Regions from separate parts of the Homo sapiens genome. Here region 2 is linked to region 1. The links come from fine-mapping of genetic effects on gene expression. Tissue or cell type: adrenal gland. Region 1 holds a variant in brackets; the other region holds the start of a gene. All regions are shown on one strand. Distances are between the middles of the regions.

What was found. PIP is the estimated chance that this variant, and not a neighbour inherited with it, causes the effect.
Region 2: SYNM starts here. The variant in region 1 is fine-mapped to the expression of SYNM in adrenal gland (GTEx, PIP above 0.99). The same link has a PIP of 0.9 or more in ovary.

What each region holds. Positions count from the first base shown.
Region 1 is chr15:99,171,495-99,179,596 of GRCh38, forward strand. TTC23 (tetratricopeptide repeat domain 23) reads right to left here. Exons shown (of 14, transcript NM_001288615.3): 10 at 3,556-3,661. Among named protein-coding and RNA genes, the nearest start is that of TTC23-AS1, 36 kb to the left of the region's middle. The variant T/TA (reference allele first, on the strand shown) is at 3,271.
Region 2 is chr15:99,101,259-99,109,360 of GRCh38, forward strand. It overlaps SYNM (synemin), which reads left to right and starts at 3,822. Exons shown (of 4, transcript NM_145728.3): 1 at 3,822-4,751. The coding sequence starts at 3,942. It overlaps SYNM-AS1 (SYNM antisense RNA 1), which reads right to left and starts at 4,619. Exons shown (of 3, transcript NR_187219.1): 1 at 4,430-4,619. RefSeq lists silencers at 3,572-4,481, 4,762-4,931.

The DNA.
Region 1 (8,102 bases):
AGTGCTGCTGCTATGGTTGTTACTGTCACTATTATGATTCTTGCTTGCTCCTGAGTCTCTCCGTCTTTTTTTTTTTTTTTTTTTTTTGAGACTGAGTCTCGCTCTGTCGCCAGGCTGTAGTGCAGTGGTACAATCTCGGCTCACGGCAACCTCTGCCTCCAGGGTTCAAGTGATTCTCATGCCTCAGCCTCCCGAGTAGCTGGGACTACAGGTGCGCAACACAACACCCAGCTAATTTTTTGTATTTTTAGTAGAGATGGGGTTTCACCATGTTGGCCAGGATGGTTTGATGGTCTCTATCTCTTGACCTCGTGATCCACCCACCTCGGCCTCCCAAAGTGCTGGGATTACAGGTGTGAGCCACTGGGCCCGGCCTCTCAGTCGTCTTTTGCTTCTGCTTCAAGCAACCAATCCTCCAGGCCTAATGCAGAAGTCACCCCCTTTCCCAATTTGTAAAACTATCAGTCCCAACTCCTTGTGCCTGGGAGAAGTTGTCTTCTTACCCATCTACTTTATGTTTCTCACATTTTTTTTTTTTTTGGAGACAGAGTATTGCTGTGTTGCCCAGGCTGGAGTGCAGTGGCACAATCTTGGCTCACTGTAACCTTTGCCTCCCAGGTTCAAGTGACTCTCATGCCTCAGCCTCCCAAGTAGCTGGGACTACAGGCGCGCACCACCACACCTGGCTAATTTTTGTATTTTCAGTAGAGACGGGGTTTCATTATGCTGGCCAGGCTGGTCTCGAACTCCTGACCTCATGTGATCCACCCATCTTGGCCTCCCAAAGTGGCTCCTCACATATTTCAATTCTGACTGGCAAGTGGGCTTTCTGAGTGCATGTCACCGAATGCCCTCAGCTGCTGCAGGTTGGAGCTGAGATTCTCCGCATGCTCCTGGGCCCCAGGCCTTCCCATTGGCACTCCAAACCCTTTTCTCTGGGCTGCCTTCATTCTTCCTGTGTCCCTTGTCTGCCCACAGATTCTTTTGGTGGGCCTAAGGTGGGAGGAGACATGTGAAGTGCCAGACCCTATAACATGACATGGCATAAAGAGCCTCTGGGGTGGTTGGCTGCCTGGGTTCATATCTTTACCACTCACTGGTTATGGGCCCTTGGAAAAATTACCTAATCTCTGGGTGCCTCAACTTCTCCATCCAACAAATGGGGATAAATGTACCTATCTCATCGAGTTGCAAGGATTTCTGAATTAATAAATGTAGTGTGGTGAGAACCATTGCTGGTATGCCATATATAAGCGGTAGCTATTAATATTATAACTGTGTGAGGTCATTTAATTATCACACATTTATCATCTGTATCAAGTAGGTATTATTATCATTTTCAATTTAAGAGAAGGCAATAGAGTGCTATATTTAGACTGGAAAACTTTTTAAAAATATATAACTAAAATTGGATTGCCTCTGATTCCAAAAGTCATGCAAAGCAGAGTGGCCTAACTTCACAGCTATGGGACAATAGCATTCTAGGGCACAGATTCACTAGGTCCCACTCAATTCATACCTGCAGTGAGTACACTGAGCACTGGGTCAAGTGCTGGAAACCAGAATCCCTCTAGGCAAAAAGATGGTCTTTTGGCCTTAGCCTCCTCTCTGTTTGGTTTGGTATTCATTCAGGAATGGACCCACCTCCCCTTACTCTGCCAGTTTACGCCCCCAAGGAAAACAGGAAAGATCTGACAGCAACCTGTCACTCTTGCTTTCCAGGTCAAAAGTCACGGATCCAGCCTTCGCACTTGTTTTGACTCACTCAGAGCCTTAAACATATTTCAGTTAGTTACCATCAGTTAAAAATTGGGCTGGGTCTGTGGTGGCTCATGCCTGTTATCCCAGAGTTTTGGGAAGCCAAGATGGGAGGGTAGCCTAGGGCCAGGAGTTCAAGACCATCCTTGGCAAGACTCTGTCTTTAAAAAAGAATTTTTTAAATTAGCTGGGTGCAAGCAGTGTGTGCCTGTAGTCCCACCTACTTCGCAGGCTGAGGCAGGAAGACCACTTGAGCCCAGGAGTCTGAGGCTGCAGTGGGCTATAATTGCGCCACTGCATTCCAGCCTGGGTGACAGAGTGAGACCCTGTCTCTAAAAAAATAAAAAATAATTAAAAAAAAATTGAAGATTCTCCAATAAAACTCCAAATTTCCACCTTCTCTTAAAAAAGGAGCTCTGCCAATATAAGCCTCCCTTCCACATGGCTGCCAGGGCTGGAGCTTAAGTAGCAGGTATGGGTTTTAGTTTGCCACAATCCTCACCACTCTGTTTCGTCTCTCTCATACTACAGCCATCAGTTAGCTGCCATTTATAACTATGCTTGCTGCTGCTGCTGGTTTCTGATAACCACCTGCTTCACTCACATTGCTTGCTTGGTTCCTGTAGACATTTAGATTTGTGACTTGCTATTCTAGGAGTTTCCATCAAACATGTATTTTAAGTGTTTTATTAATAGGTATGGAATAGAAAGTACTTTCCTCCTATTACATGAATTTTAGGCACCAACAAGCAAACCTGATGGTTAGTGTGGAATGTTCTAGGGAGCAGGGACAAGAAAGGTCACCTGTCTCCTCTCTCCATCCTTACACAGGCTCCTCCAGATCTAAAAAGGTGCTTCAAGCTCTAGTAGGCCAGAATGAGAGATCTGCAAGGTGTGATGGACAGATGGATAAATGCCGATGCCCCCTTCATCAGTTCCTCTGTGGACCGAAGCTCCCTGCCTGGCCCATGGATCTTTTCAGACCAGGCTGCTCATTGAAGCTTTCCCTTCACCTTCTCCCATGTGCTGGCCTCATTTTAGCCTGACTTCTACTTCCTGAATCAACCCCATGCCTTCCAGATGTTGATTTTATGCTTTTGAGCACAGTGGACCTTATTTTATTCAGTATGTAATTATTTTTATCTGATATCTTGGAATACACCCCTAGGTCTTCTTTATGAATTGTACTCCATTTCTGAATATTATGACCAAAAAAAAAAAAAAATCATTAGTACTATGTGTTTTCTGCCAACGGAGGCACATTGTATGCTCTGTACGTGGATTAAATAATTCCTGAAGCTTGATGCTCTACCTATTACGCGGGGATAAGAAAAACCCTAAGAAAAAGCCATAAATGGCAACTTCCTTTTGGAATCCTGAAGCCGTGTAAGTTCATCCTGATGGAAAGTTCAGCCCTGACAGTGCCTGGAGGCCGGCTGGCCCAGAGGCCAGAGCTGTTGCCACAACAATCTTTAAAAATAGATCACCTTTGAAAGCAGAGCAGATTTACCG[T/TA]AAGCCCAGTACAGATGCTCTGGGGCTCTTAACAGCTAACATTTGGATAGAGATTGGCTGTATTTAAGAATAAAAGACTAGAAGAAGGCTAGAAGAAGGGGAGAGAAACCAAAGGACTCAGAGGAAAGCAGCAGAGTAGCATAGGGGCAGATGATCAGATAAAACAAGGAAGGCTCTGTGGCGGGCCTGTGTCGCGGCTCTGTCCACCTGTTAACCCATCTAGAAGGCAGCTCGTTTATAGACCCAGATGCCTGTGAGACAGGAAGAGAAAAGGATTCTTCTCACCATGGTGCTCGTGTCTCCCTGAAGCGACAGCAGCATGGGCGACGATGTGTGCCGAGTCTGCTGCCTCCACTTGAGAGGGGCTTCTACTCAGGATGATAAGATGTGCCTGTCACCACAGAAAGAAGAAACATGTTGTTTACATACTTGGCAGCAGCAGCAGGGAATTAACTGTCCTTGCAGAGATAAGCAGAAAGCCAAGGAACTTTCCAGCAAGCTAGAAGAAATGATTTATGTGGAAGTGAAATCAACTCGCAGGAAAGCTGGATTTTAAAAGGTCTGAGTGGTGGAGGGAACACTGGACAATGAATCCAGATGGCTCAATGCTATGGCCAGGGCCTGTCACTAAGCAAATCATTAAACGTCTATGATCCTTTGAGTCCAGTGTCAGCAAAGGAAGGGGAGTTACAAGAAGTAAAGAGATGAATAGAAGGTGTCGATGCTGTGCAGACAGTGGGCAAGCCCAGTGCCCTGCCTACCCGCCAGCCCCAAAAGTGGGACCTACCGGTGGGTGTCAGCAGTCTCCCCACAGATATACAGACCCCTCCTTTGTGCCTGTGCCACCAAGCCCATTTGCCTGCACCCTCTACAAACTTGCTCAGGGGAGCTGCCCAAGCACAGAAAGCAGCTCAGTTCCTTGAAAATAAAGTCCACTAAAATGTTGTTGCCCAGGCGCGGTGGCTCATGTCTGTAATCCCAGCACTTTGGGAGGCCAAGGCAGGTGGATCACTTGAGGTCAGGAGTTCAAGACCAGCCTGGCCAACATGGTGAAACCTCATCTCTAATAAAAATATAAAAATTAGCCGGGTATGGTGGTGCACGCCTATAGTCCCAGCTATTTGGAAGGCTGAGGCACGAGAACAGCTTGAACCTGGGAGGTGGAGGTTGCAGTGGGCCGAGATTGCACCACTGCACTCTAGCCTGGGTGACAGAGACTCTGTCTCAAAAAATAAAAGTTTTTAAACAACAAACAAAAAACTATGATCTTCTGAACATAAAATCACAATAGTCCTTTCAAATAACATGCAAAATACCTGCTTTCAAATAAAAAGTAACTACTCAACTCCCTGTCAGCATTTGGAGTTTTAAAATACTATTAGTAACATGTTTACATTCATTCACACTTAGGATTGCCTACTATAGGAGAGGCATGGGCTAGAAAGTGTGTGCAGTACAAAAAATAAAATACGGTGAAGTAAGATAATACACTAATGTGAGTCAGTAGGTAGGTAGTTCACAATTAATTGCCAAAAGAGTGACAGAATACTAAAATGCCATGAGTAGGCCAGGCATGGTGGCTCACAACTGTACTCCCAGCAGTTTGGGGGACTGAGGCTGGAGATTGCTAGAGCTCAGGAGTTCAAGATGAGCCTGGGCAACATGGTGAAACCCTGTCTCTACAACAAATACAAAAATTAGCCGGGCATGGTGGCATATGCCTGCAGTCCCAGCTACTCGGGAGGGCTAAAGCGGGTGAATTGCTTTGAGCCCGGGAGGTTGAGGCTGCAATGAGTTATGATTATGCCACTGCACTTCAGCCTGGGTGACAGAGCAAGACCCTGTCATACACAAATACACACAAAAAGATAAAAAAGGAAAACACTAGATTGGGATAGGCAAAACACACTAGCAATTCATAAGATGTAAGCTGCACTTTAATTCTTTTTTATTTGTGATACCAATTTTAATTTTCTTGATAATTGTTATCTTCATTTTATACATGAGAAAACTAAGATTGCTGAATGGGTGATTATGATATCTCACAGCTAATAAGAGATAGAGATAAGAGTCTGACCCTGATCCTCTAACTTCAAATTCTGCTATCTCTATCATGTCCTGAGTGCTGCCATTCCCCCCACCCTAGCCAGTGGTGGGAGACATCACTAATTGATGCCAGCACACTCCTCAGGGAACCCTAATTCAGTCCTCAGGAGCTGTGATTCATCTATGGCAGCTGGCACAGGAGATCAAGTCATCCCAGTTGAGCATTCTAGTCTGGACCATGCAGTACTTCCTCCTCTTATGACCAGCCGAATGCATTTCTGAGACTATAATCAGAGCGGAGATAGAATCTTTGACTCTAGACTGTCACCTTACTTGTCACATGTTAAAATCTGCTAAGCTACTAGCTCTGGACTTTTTATGTTGGGGCTACTCCAAAATAAGACTGCAGGTAATAATTTTTATTGCTGCATTAGAATAGTCAGAATTTCTTATTCATAAGTGCCAACAATATCCTTTGCTTTAAAATGACTTTTCTTATTACAGAATATAAAGAATTGAATATGTGATTTTGGCAACCCCAAATTAGCCACTGTCCTTGATTTGGCATGAAAGGCCCAATCTTAAGGTCTGACTTAAATGTTTTCCAAATAACGGGCACTATGAAATTCAACTTCATGTGTATATAGACAATAGCAGCCACAGGGATAGAGTCAAATTATTGCTTGTGTAGTGTTTGGAGAAAGGAAAAAAGAGGAAATACCCACACCCTCCGAAAAAATACCAAATGCAAATTGAGCCATGTTTACTTTGCTTTTCCCCTACTATCTCTACGATCTGTTATTTGGAGAGAACAATCACTGTGTAATGCCAGAAAAGCTTTAACTCATATGATGCAAAGACATATAGTATTTTAGATTAAAACCAAAACAAGAAAGATTTTATATTTTGTTTCTTCCTATTCAATATTATAAATTCAAGAAAATGTTAATAGATATGTGTCTAACAAAATTATTTTCAAATCAATAATTACATGTTCTGAAAACACTGTAAGTTGTTTTTTTGCCATGGAGACAGAAAGCAAAGTTTTCCAAGAGCAAAATACACACAATATCAAGAAAGTGAGTCAGGCTGGGCATGCTGGCTCATGCCTATAATCTCAGCACCTTGGGAGGCCGAGGCAGGAGGATCACTTGAGCTCAGGAGTTTGAGACTAGCCTGGGCAACATAGTGAGACCCTGTCTGTACTAAAAAATAAAAAAAATTAGCCAGGGGTGGTGGCATACACCTGTAGTCCCAGCTACGCAGGACGCTGAGGTGGGAAGATCACTTGATCCTGGGAGATCAAGACTGCAGTGAGCCGTGATCGTGTACTGCACTCCAGCTTGAGTGACAAAGCAAGACTCTGTCTCAAAAAATAAAAAAAGAAAGTGGGTCCTGAAAGCTTAAAGGGATCTGAATTTATCACAAAATTTTCATGACTTAAACATTTTTCTACATGAAATGCTAACATAAGCAAACATTTATTATTCATTATTCACTTCAGAAACTCAATCCCTAATGTAATTTATTTGATGTTCATGAAGCTTTTATAAACCATATGCTAGAGGGAAGGGGGTTTGACGGGGGAACACCCAGGATGTCTAAAATGTGCAAAATTAGCATCTCATTTATTCAGTAAAATTCAATTTAATTCCATTTAATTTAATTCAGTCCTATTCAACTTATGTTCATTTTTAAATGCTTTCTACATGCCAGATATTGTGCTAACATTAGAAATTCCCCTAAAAATTTAGGCAGGAATTTTAGTTTTAAAGGAGCTCACATGTGAACTACAAAAATGTAGGATAGTTTGTATTTTATGCAGATTTACAGACACTGCCCCTCACTAGGTTTTTGCACCCAGCTAACTGACTTCCTATCTACCCTTACTCTTGTCATCATTTCCCAAGATTTCAGTATGCATGAGATTGGCCTGTACTCAATCAGGCAGGAAAGAGATGGCACATGTAAACAGGTTAATGGAGGAAAAGAGGTCAATAAAATGATCCCTGGCATGGAGGAAACCCAAGATGAGCACGCTGGCTCCCAAGACAAGGTGCTGGGGGCATTTGCTATAACCAGAAAGAAGAATTGTAGGGAAATGAGCGGTGGGTTTCAGTAGAGACACGGCCTACCTGCAGGGACCTTGAGGGGAGGGGCTGGAGGAATGGATGCTCTGTCTCCATGTCTTCCCTGGTCCAGGCTGTGTATCTCTCAGTCTGAGGGAAAGGGCACTGAGATGGTAATTAAAGGTCAGCCTCTGGGGCACAGAGCAGGGCTGAGAAGGATGCACAGTGTAGCTGAAGGACCACACGGAAATGTCCAGCCAACGACCTAGCCAACACCTTGGCCTCTCAGGTTTCTGACAAACTTACTTTCCTCCTTACTCTCAGGTGCCCAGTCCCTGGGTCACACTCCAGACCTCATCATCGCCCACTCTGTGTTACCACTGGATCCTCCAACTCACAGACCCATTTTGGCTCTTGGGGGGCCCTAGATCTATTGCCTCCATGCACATCTACTCCACCGCCCCCTGACATTCTCACTAGTCATCCAACCCTCCTGCTGTCCTTCCCTTCTTGTCCAGCTTAATGGGCACCGCCCATTGCCTGTGTTGAAAATGCCCTCCACTGATGCATTAATTGAGATGGTAAAAAATGGGGAACCACCTAAATATCTATCAGCAGGGGAATGAACATATTGTGGTTTATTCTACAAGTTCTTGATTGAACTCCATCTACATATGTTAACATGGTTGTATTTCAAAAACATACCACTGAGTGAAC
Region 2 (8,102 bases), 70 kb before region 1:
TATCGATTTTTGCAGAACTCTGGTGTTCCTAGTGCATTTATGATTACAGTTGACAAATGAATGCAGCACCATGAATATTGATTGATATTTTTGTTTACCTTAGCAAGAAAGACAAAGGTGAAATAACTGAGAAATTTCATTTATTCTTCATCATGATGTAACTTCTTTTTAAATTTTTTTTGTATTTTTAAATTTTGTTAAGACAGGATCTCACTCTGCTACCCAGGCTGGAGTGCAACGGCTCAATCATGGCTCACCAAAACCTCGATCTCCTGGGCTCAAGGAATCCTCTCACTTCAGCCTCCCAAGTAGCTGGGATTACAGGTGCATGCCACCATGCCCAGTTAATTTTTGTATTTTTTGTAGAGAGGGGGTTTTGCCATGTCCAGGCTGGTCTCGAACTCCTGAGCTCAAGTGCTCTGCATGCCTTGGCCTCCCAAAGTCTTGGTATTACGAGTGTAAGCCACCACGCCCAGCTATGAAGCAACTTCTTTCCTGATCTGGATACAAGTTTCGAGACACCGGACAAACATTTCCTCACGTTTTTGTGCTGTTCACAATTCAATAGCTAGACACACAACATACCACTAAATTTAATCTGCACTATTAACATACTCTCCACTGCTTTTAAAGGCTAGACAATCAACAAAACATCAAATCCACAAAAACAAGTCATTGGCTGATTTCTGTGTTGTAAATACTCAAGCTACCAACATGATGTCAGTGAATATGGAGTAGGGTAGTACACATTAAATGGCATTTCTATGGTGCAGGCACACTGCTCATTCATAACTTCAAGAGCAGATCATAGGAAAATGCAGTGAAATACTGAGGAAGTGATACGTTTTGAATATGTGTTTGCTCTTTTTGTATAATTAGTTGTAAGCTTCTATAATTAATTTTTAATAATGGCTGTGTTTAACAAGTGGTTCATAAAATTCTAAAAATTTAACAGTTGGCACTCACAAACCTGTGGGAGCCAACCGCAGTGCACCACTGCCAGGCTCCTGTGACTTCTGGCTTCCACAGCGGGAAGTATTGGCAAGAGAAGGGAGGCTTGGATGAAGGAAGAACTGGGTTTTCCTCCTCTTGCTCCCTCCTGGGATCCATTCTGCTCCTCTTTTCCAGCGCTCTGGGCTTCTCCAGGCTCAGCCAACACCCTAAGGCGCTAACGGCTTCTTAGCTTCTTGCTCTTGCTGGTCCCTGGTGCTTCCTCATCCCATCCATCCCCATCCCATCAATCATTCCCTTCCCTCTGAGTTTGCCTCTGCTTCCTGGCCAGACCCTGCCTGCTCAAGTCTGCTCTTGTGGTCACAACTCTAATACTTCTAGTCACTTCACCCCTCCGAGCTTCAGTGTTGTGAGGATTCAGTATGAAGCAGCAGGATATTATCCTGAAAGAGTAGCTGGGGGTACTTCCCCCCTCCCACCTCCCGGCCCTGCTAGTTCCTGATCCCCTATAACTCTTTCCCTACCGGGGCAGCTGCATGCTGGAGCAGTCAATTCCTCAGGGACAGGATTTACAGCAGAAATGGGGGAAAGGGTTTTGAGTTTCAAAGTCCAAGACCCTGAAGGGCACTGGGCAAAGAAAGACTAATGAGTCACTGCAAAGTGTCCTGCTGGGACTCACTGGTCCCTGAGAAGGCTCTCCCACCCTGCAGGGCTGCCCCCTGCCCAGCCAGGGGATGTGGGACAGCAGAACCCGTTAGCGTGGGGAGTCAAAGAGCTGAGAACAAACAGCTGCAGCGGAGTCCAGGCAACTGTGAGAGCCGCCCCCCCGCACCCCAATGTCCCAGAGGGGCCCAGGACCGGCAGGGTCTCCACATAGGTTTGGGCGATGACACCACAGCAGCTCTGGTGTTTGACAAGCAAAGGCCAGGTGTCAGTGTGCACCTGGGGGAATGGGAGGATGGACAATGATGGGGTGATGGGGGTCCAAATCCCCCTGTCCCACACCAAGGTGAATGAACCCAAGCACTGAATAAACCCACTTTCCACCCCCACTTAGTTTTAGCAGAAAAGGACAGGGAATTATTCATTGAAAGATATTAATTTCTACCACCTACAGAATGGGATCTCCAACATAGGGTCTCTAGAAAAAGGAAGGGCCACTTTCTGCCTTGCTTGTGATTGGAGGCTCATGGCTGTGACAAGGAGAGCACTAGAAGCTTTGTCAGAGGCCCTGGACCAGCTTGCTGAGTAGTCCACCTTTCCATGCCATCTGTAAAATACACTAACTGCTGGCCCTGCCATGAGGAGCCCTCTGGCCAGTGGATGACCGTCCAGGTCTCGCCCTGGGCACTTGTGTTGCCACAAGTTCAAGGGCACCCCAACCAAGGGTCAGCTGGTTTGTCCCTGTGAGCCTTAATGACACTTATACTGAGAACTGTCATTCATAAATAACTGCCATGAAAACTAATGAAATGCAAGTGTACAAAAAAGAGCTGTGGTTTCCATGGCAATTAAACTGAATACTTTCTTAGGGAAATGCTGGAAAGAAACAGCTGTCACATTAGGGGTGTGTGTGTGAGATTTGTAAAAGTTCGGGGAGATGTTAGATGTCTAGAAAGTTCTGTACTTGGAGCACTTTATGGTCTCTAAGTTTTCACTCCAAATGAAAGAAATTCGTTTTGGAAAATGTAATGTACTATGAGGGTAGCTTGTATAAGAAGGGCAACTGGGACTCCTGTCAACTGACATCAAGAGAAGTATTTTGCACATTAAAATACTGGTAAATGGATATATATTTATGTTTTAAGTTAAAAAGATTATTTAGGCTGGGCACGGTAGCTCACGCCAGTAATCCCAGGACTTTGGGAGGCCGAGGTGGGCGGATCACCTGAGGTCGTGAGTTCGAGACCAGCCTGACCAACATGGAGAAACCCCGTCTCTACCAAAAATACAAAAAAAAAAAAAAAAAAAAAAAAAAAAAATTAGCCAGGCGTGGTGGCGCTGGCCTGTAATCCCGGTTACTCGGGAGGCTGAGGCAGGAGAATCGCTTGAACCCGGGAGGCGGAGGCTGTGGTGAGCCGAGATCGTGCCATTGCACTCCAGCCTGGGCAACAAGAGCGACACTCTGTCTCAAAAAAAAAAAAAAAAAAATTAATGCACATGTATGTGTAATGTATATATATGAGATGAGGCCTCTCTCTGTTGCCCAGGCTGGAGCGCAGTGCCACAATCAGGTTCACTGCAGCCCTGAACTCCTGGGTTCGAGTAATCCTCCCGCCTCAGCCTCCCAAGCAGCGCGTGTGACACCACCACGCCAGGCTCCATATATATATATATATATATATATTTTTTTTTTTTTTTTTTTTTTGGTAGAGACAGGGTCTCTCTATGTTGCTCAGGCTGGTCTCGAACTCCTGGGCTCAAGCGAGCCTCCCACCTCGGCTTCCCAAAATGCTGGGATTATAGGCCTGAGCCACCGCGCCCGGCCCATATCGTTTTTTTAAAAATAGAAAAGCCACCAATCTCCAGGGCCTCGGGTAAGAAGTCGCTCCAAAATCGCCAGCACCACAGCAACTCAATAGGCTTCTATTTCCATCCACCAAGGCCAGGACACTCGTATGCTCCCGGACGCCCTCTCCGGCGTCCCTTCGCTGAGCCCGGCCTGGCTAGCCCGCCACCCCGCCCGCTGTTACCCGACTGCCCGCACCGACCACCTGCGGCCGCCAAGGTGCGGCAGGGGGCGCTGTGCGGCCGCAGAGGCCGCGCCGGGCCGCGCTCTGATTGGCTGGAGGCCGCGGCCCTCGCCCAGGCCGCCCGCCCAGTCTGCCCGCCCCGTCCGCTAAGTGCCTGGGCTCTCCCGCTCGCGTCCCAGTCTGCGGGCCTCCGGGGCAGCGGCGAGGCCGGAGCGTCGCGGCGGAGAGGACGAGACCGGGACAAGACCAGGGCAGGAGGGAGCCGGCCAGCCGCGAGAACCCCGCACGCCCGGCAAGATGCTGTCCTGGCGGCTGCAGACGGGCCCCGAGAAGGCCGAGCTCCAGGAGCTCAACGCCCGGCTCTATGACTACGTGTGTCGGGTGCGGGAGCTGGAGCGCGAAAACCTACTCCTGGAGGAGGAGCTGCGCGGCCGGCGCGGGCGAGAGGGCCTGTGGGCCGAGGGGCAGGCCCGCTGCGCCGAGGAGGCGCGCAGCTTGCGGCAGCAGCTGGACGAGCTGAGCTGGGCCACTGCGCTGGCGGAGGGCGAGCGGGACGCTCTGCGGCGCGAGCTGCGGGAGCTGCAGCGCCTGGATGCGGAGGAGCGCGCCGCCCGCGGCCGCCTGGACGCCGAGCTGGGTGCGCAGCAGCGCGAGCTGCAGGAGGCGCTGGGCGCGCGCGCCGCCCTCGAGGCGCTGCTGGGCCGGCTGCAGGCCGAGCGCCGAGGCCTCGACGCGGCCCACGAACGCGACGTGAGGGAGCTGCGCGCGCGCGCCGCCAGCCTTACCATGCATTTCCGCGCCCGCGCCACCGGCCCCGCCGCGCCGCCGCCACGCCTGCGGGAGGTGCACGACAGCTACGCACTGCTGGTGGCCGAGTCGTGGCGGGAGACGGTGCAGCTGTACGAGGACGAGGTGCGCGAGCTGGAGGAGGCGCTGCGGCGCGGCCAGGAGAGCAGACTCCAGGCGGAGGAAGAGACGCGGCTGTGCGCGCAGGAGGCAGAGGCGCTGCGGCGCGAGGCGCTCGGGTTGGAGCAGCTGCGCGCGCGGCTGGAGGACGCGCTGCTGCGGATGCGCGAGGAGTACGGGATACAGGCCGAGGAGCGGCAGGTCCGTGCGCGGGGATGGCGCGCTGACCCCATACCCGCTGCCGTCGCCCCAGCACCCTGCCCTTGACGGCGTGGGGCAGCGGCCCCTTCACCAGGGGCGCGGCGTCGCGGACCGGTAGGGCCCGCCCAGAGGGTGCCCGAATGGCATGGGGACCCGGACTCGGTCCGCTGGTCCATCGACTCAGCGGGCGAGCGCGGGGCGGCAGGTCCTAGCGGATAGCCCCGTCCTCGTCATGGGGTTAGGTGGCAGCTGCTTTAACTCTTGACAAGCGTGACTGGGCGCATCCTGATAGGCCACCCTGTTAGCTCTAGGTTTTCCTTCCATTTTCCGTGCTCCGTAGACTCAGTAGACCCAGATCTAAGAGTCAACCGAGAAACCTCTCTCACTTGCAGAAGTGACGGCTTATGGTAGCCCCGCTGTCTATAGCGCTCCTCAGGGGAAAACTCAAATTAATTTCCAAAACGGTTTTTATTTTGCCAATATGATTTCCCAGTTGGAAGCCGCAGTTGTGGCTCTCTGGGCGGCTGCCTTGTTTGATCTTGGGAGGGGCAGCAACCCTCATGCAGAACAGAGCTTGATCGAAGATGTTTTGCTCACAGCACACGCTGACGTCAGATCTCTGCGTAGTGTAAAAGTTGTGGGAAAGTGGGGCCCTTTGGCAGGATGTTATTACAAGTGCAGAGTGATATAAACAGTTACTATTTCAGGGAAGCAAACCCTCTGACACCGGCGGGGTGACACCTGTGGCTGATGTAAACTATGCCCAGTCCAGCCCTAGCGTTTGGCCCTCGCCCTGCCCTGCCTCAGCCAGAATTGGAAATATTCCCAAATCACACTATCAGTAGTTCTCAAAAGGACAGATGGAAATAACATCTGCACAATTTCACAAATATTTTAAGAGTACAGTTTGCAGCTGTGAGTTAAAGATTTGAGACTGACTTTTAAAAATTAGAAGTGAGAGGAACATGGGGGTTGTCATATGGAATGACTGCGGTGATGTGACAGGTATCCACAGGTGATGAGTAAATACCTGTTGATTCTCCCTGGGTCCCCAGCACTGCCCTAGACTTTCAGTATGCAAAGAGCTACAGGCTAGATGGGAAATCATAGAATGCAATATGGTACTACATTGGGATTTAATCTTTTGAGTTGTGGGTTTTGTTTGGCTTCCGCCTCATAACTTTTCAAAGTGTTCTCTTGGGGCTTTGCCATAGCTAGAGCAGGGACAGGGACTGACCCAGTGTGTACCGATTTCCACTTGTGAGCACTTGTGTCCCTTTGCAATGACAGTGGCCAGGGGTCTGAGTTCCACAGGTCCTATACTCGTTGTTGAGTGAAAGTTAAAAAGTGCCTTAATGTGGCATTCATGGAGATTTGACCAGTGGTTATTTTGACTCTCCAAAAAGGAGTATCTGTCAAACCTACTGCCCAGGGAACCCCTTTGTAGGGAACCCTCGCTACCAACTCAGGGGTCTGTGCTGTGCAGGCAGGTTTAGAAAATGCTGCTTTGAGCCACGCTGTGTGGACCAAATCGTCACCATGCGTTCACAGCCACAGCTCACTTGGCACATTTCAGACCTTCAAATTCTGGTTCCAGTGTTCTTTCTTAGCGGCAAAGCCCTTTTCCCCACTAATGAAACCTTCAGTGGAACTCGTAATGTGAGCCATATGAAAGCAGAGTTCCCCTGACTGGAGGAGACATGGGGACTTGAAGTGCAGTTAGAATCCTGTGCAGCCCTCCTTTGACACAGGGACTCCAGGGCCCACCGGGGAAGTGCTTTTCCTGAGGTCATACCTGCCCTCAGAGTGAGGCTGGGACCCCACTCTCCGTTTGCCATCCAGTGATACTTCTCTCTTGTTGGAATTTGCTGCTTTTTCCTAAAAGCAAAGAGCGAGGAAAATGTCAATAAGGACCTGGTTTTTTTTTTTGTTTTTTGTTTTGTTTTTTTTTTGGTTTTGGTTTTGGTTTTGGTTTTGGTTTTTTGAGACGGAGTCTTGCTCTGTCGCCCAGGCTGGAGTGCAGTGGCTGATCTCGGCACACCGCAACATCCGCTTCCTGGGCTCAAGTGATTCTCGTGCCTCAGCCTCCCGAGTAGCTGGGAGTACAGGATCCCACCACCCCGCCTGGCTAATTTTTGTATTTTTAGTAGATACAGGGTTTCACCATGTTGGCCAGCCTGGTCTCAAACTCCTGACCTCAAGTGATCCACCGGCCGTGGCCTCCCACAGTGCTGAAATTACAGGTGTGAGCCATGTGCCCGGCCATTTTTTTTTTCCAGTTCCAATTTGCAGAGGTTTTACTGCACTAAGTGTTACCAGTCACTACCTTGTCCATATACTGAATCTTCCCTCAGTTAACTTAAGTCAACTCCATTTCAAATTGCATTCCAGAAGATTCAGCACCAATCACAGAGATGCTAGGAAGTATGTGAAAGAGGGAGTATGGATGATTTAACCCCAAGCCTGTAATTTTTTTCGGGTTCTGTAGAAGCTTACTATGGGGAGAGTGAAAAAATCCTAAAAATGGGTTGAATTAGTATATGGTAATAAATATCTTATTACTAAGAGCCTTTAGCAAGTGCTTCGTGTGTGCCAGGTACCACAGATGCCCTTCACAAATATTCACTCTCAGTGCCCACACCAGTGTTACGAAGTGGGTACTAATATAAGCTCCATTTTACAGAGGAGGAAGCTGAGGCACATAAGTCACCTGATTAGTAAGTAGTTAAGCCAGGATTCAACTCAGGCTCTAGTGCCTGAGCAACTGACCGCTGGGCGTCCGTTTCTCTCTTCTGTCTGTTTGATCAGAGAGAAACCTTTAACCAGTATTCTTGCATTCATAGCATAATGATAATTGCTCTTCCTAAGGGCTAGCCCGAGGTACTCTGCTGATTTCAAGTCCTAAAATGCTTTTAGACCCCTCCAGCTGGCTGAATAGTTTTGGCATTAAAACTATTTTCTTTCATTTCTTTTTTTCTGTGTTCCATGTGCTTTAATGCCCCCCTCCCCTGGAGGCAGGAGCTGGAGGCAGCAGAGGGTGCTGCCACATTGTGCCCAGCTCTCCCTGCCTCTGGCTATAGCTTCTGTGGCTCAAGGGGGAAGATGCTTGCTAGGATTCTACTTGAGGGGAAACTGGTCCTTCCCAGATGGCCCATGCGCCTTCACTGTATGAGGCGGTAGTCATTGGCCTGCCCCAGGCCTGGCCTCAGATTTGCCCGAGAAGAGTTTGCTGAACTGACATCCAAGTTCCCAAATGTGATCTAGATCACTTGAAGCCTGAGTGACACACCCAGGCTGCAGGAGGGGGCTTCAGAAAACACTTGAAGACATTTGCGATAAAGTGGAGACCAG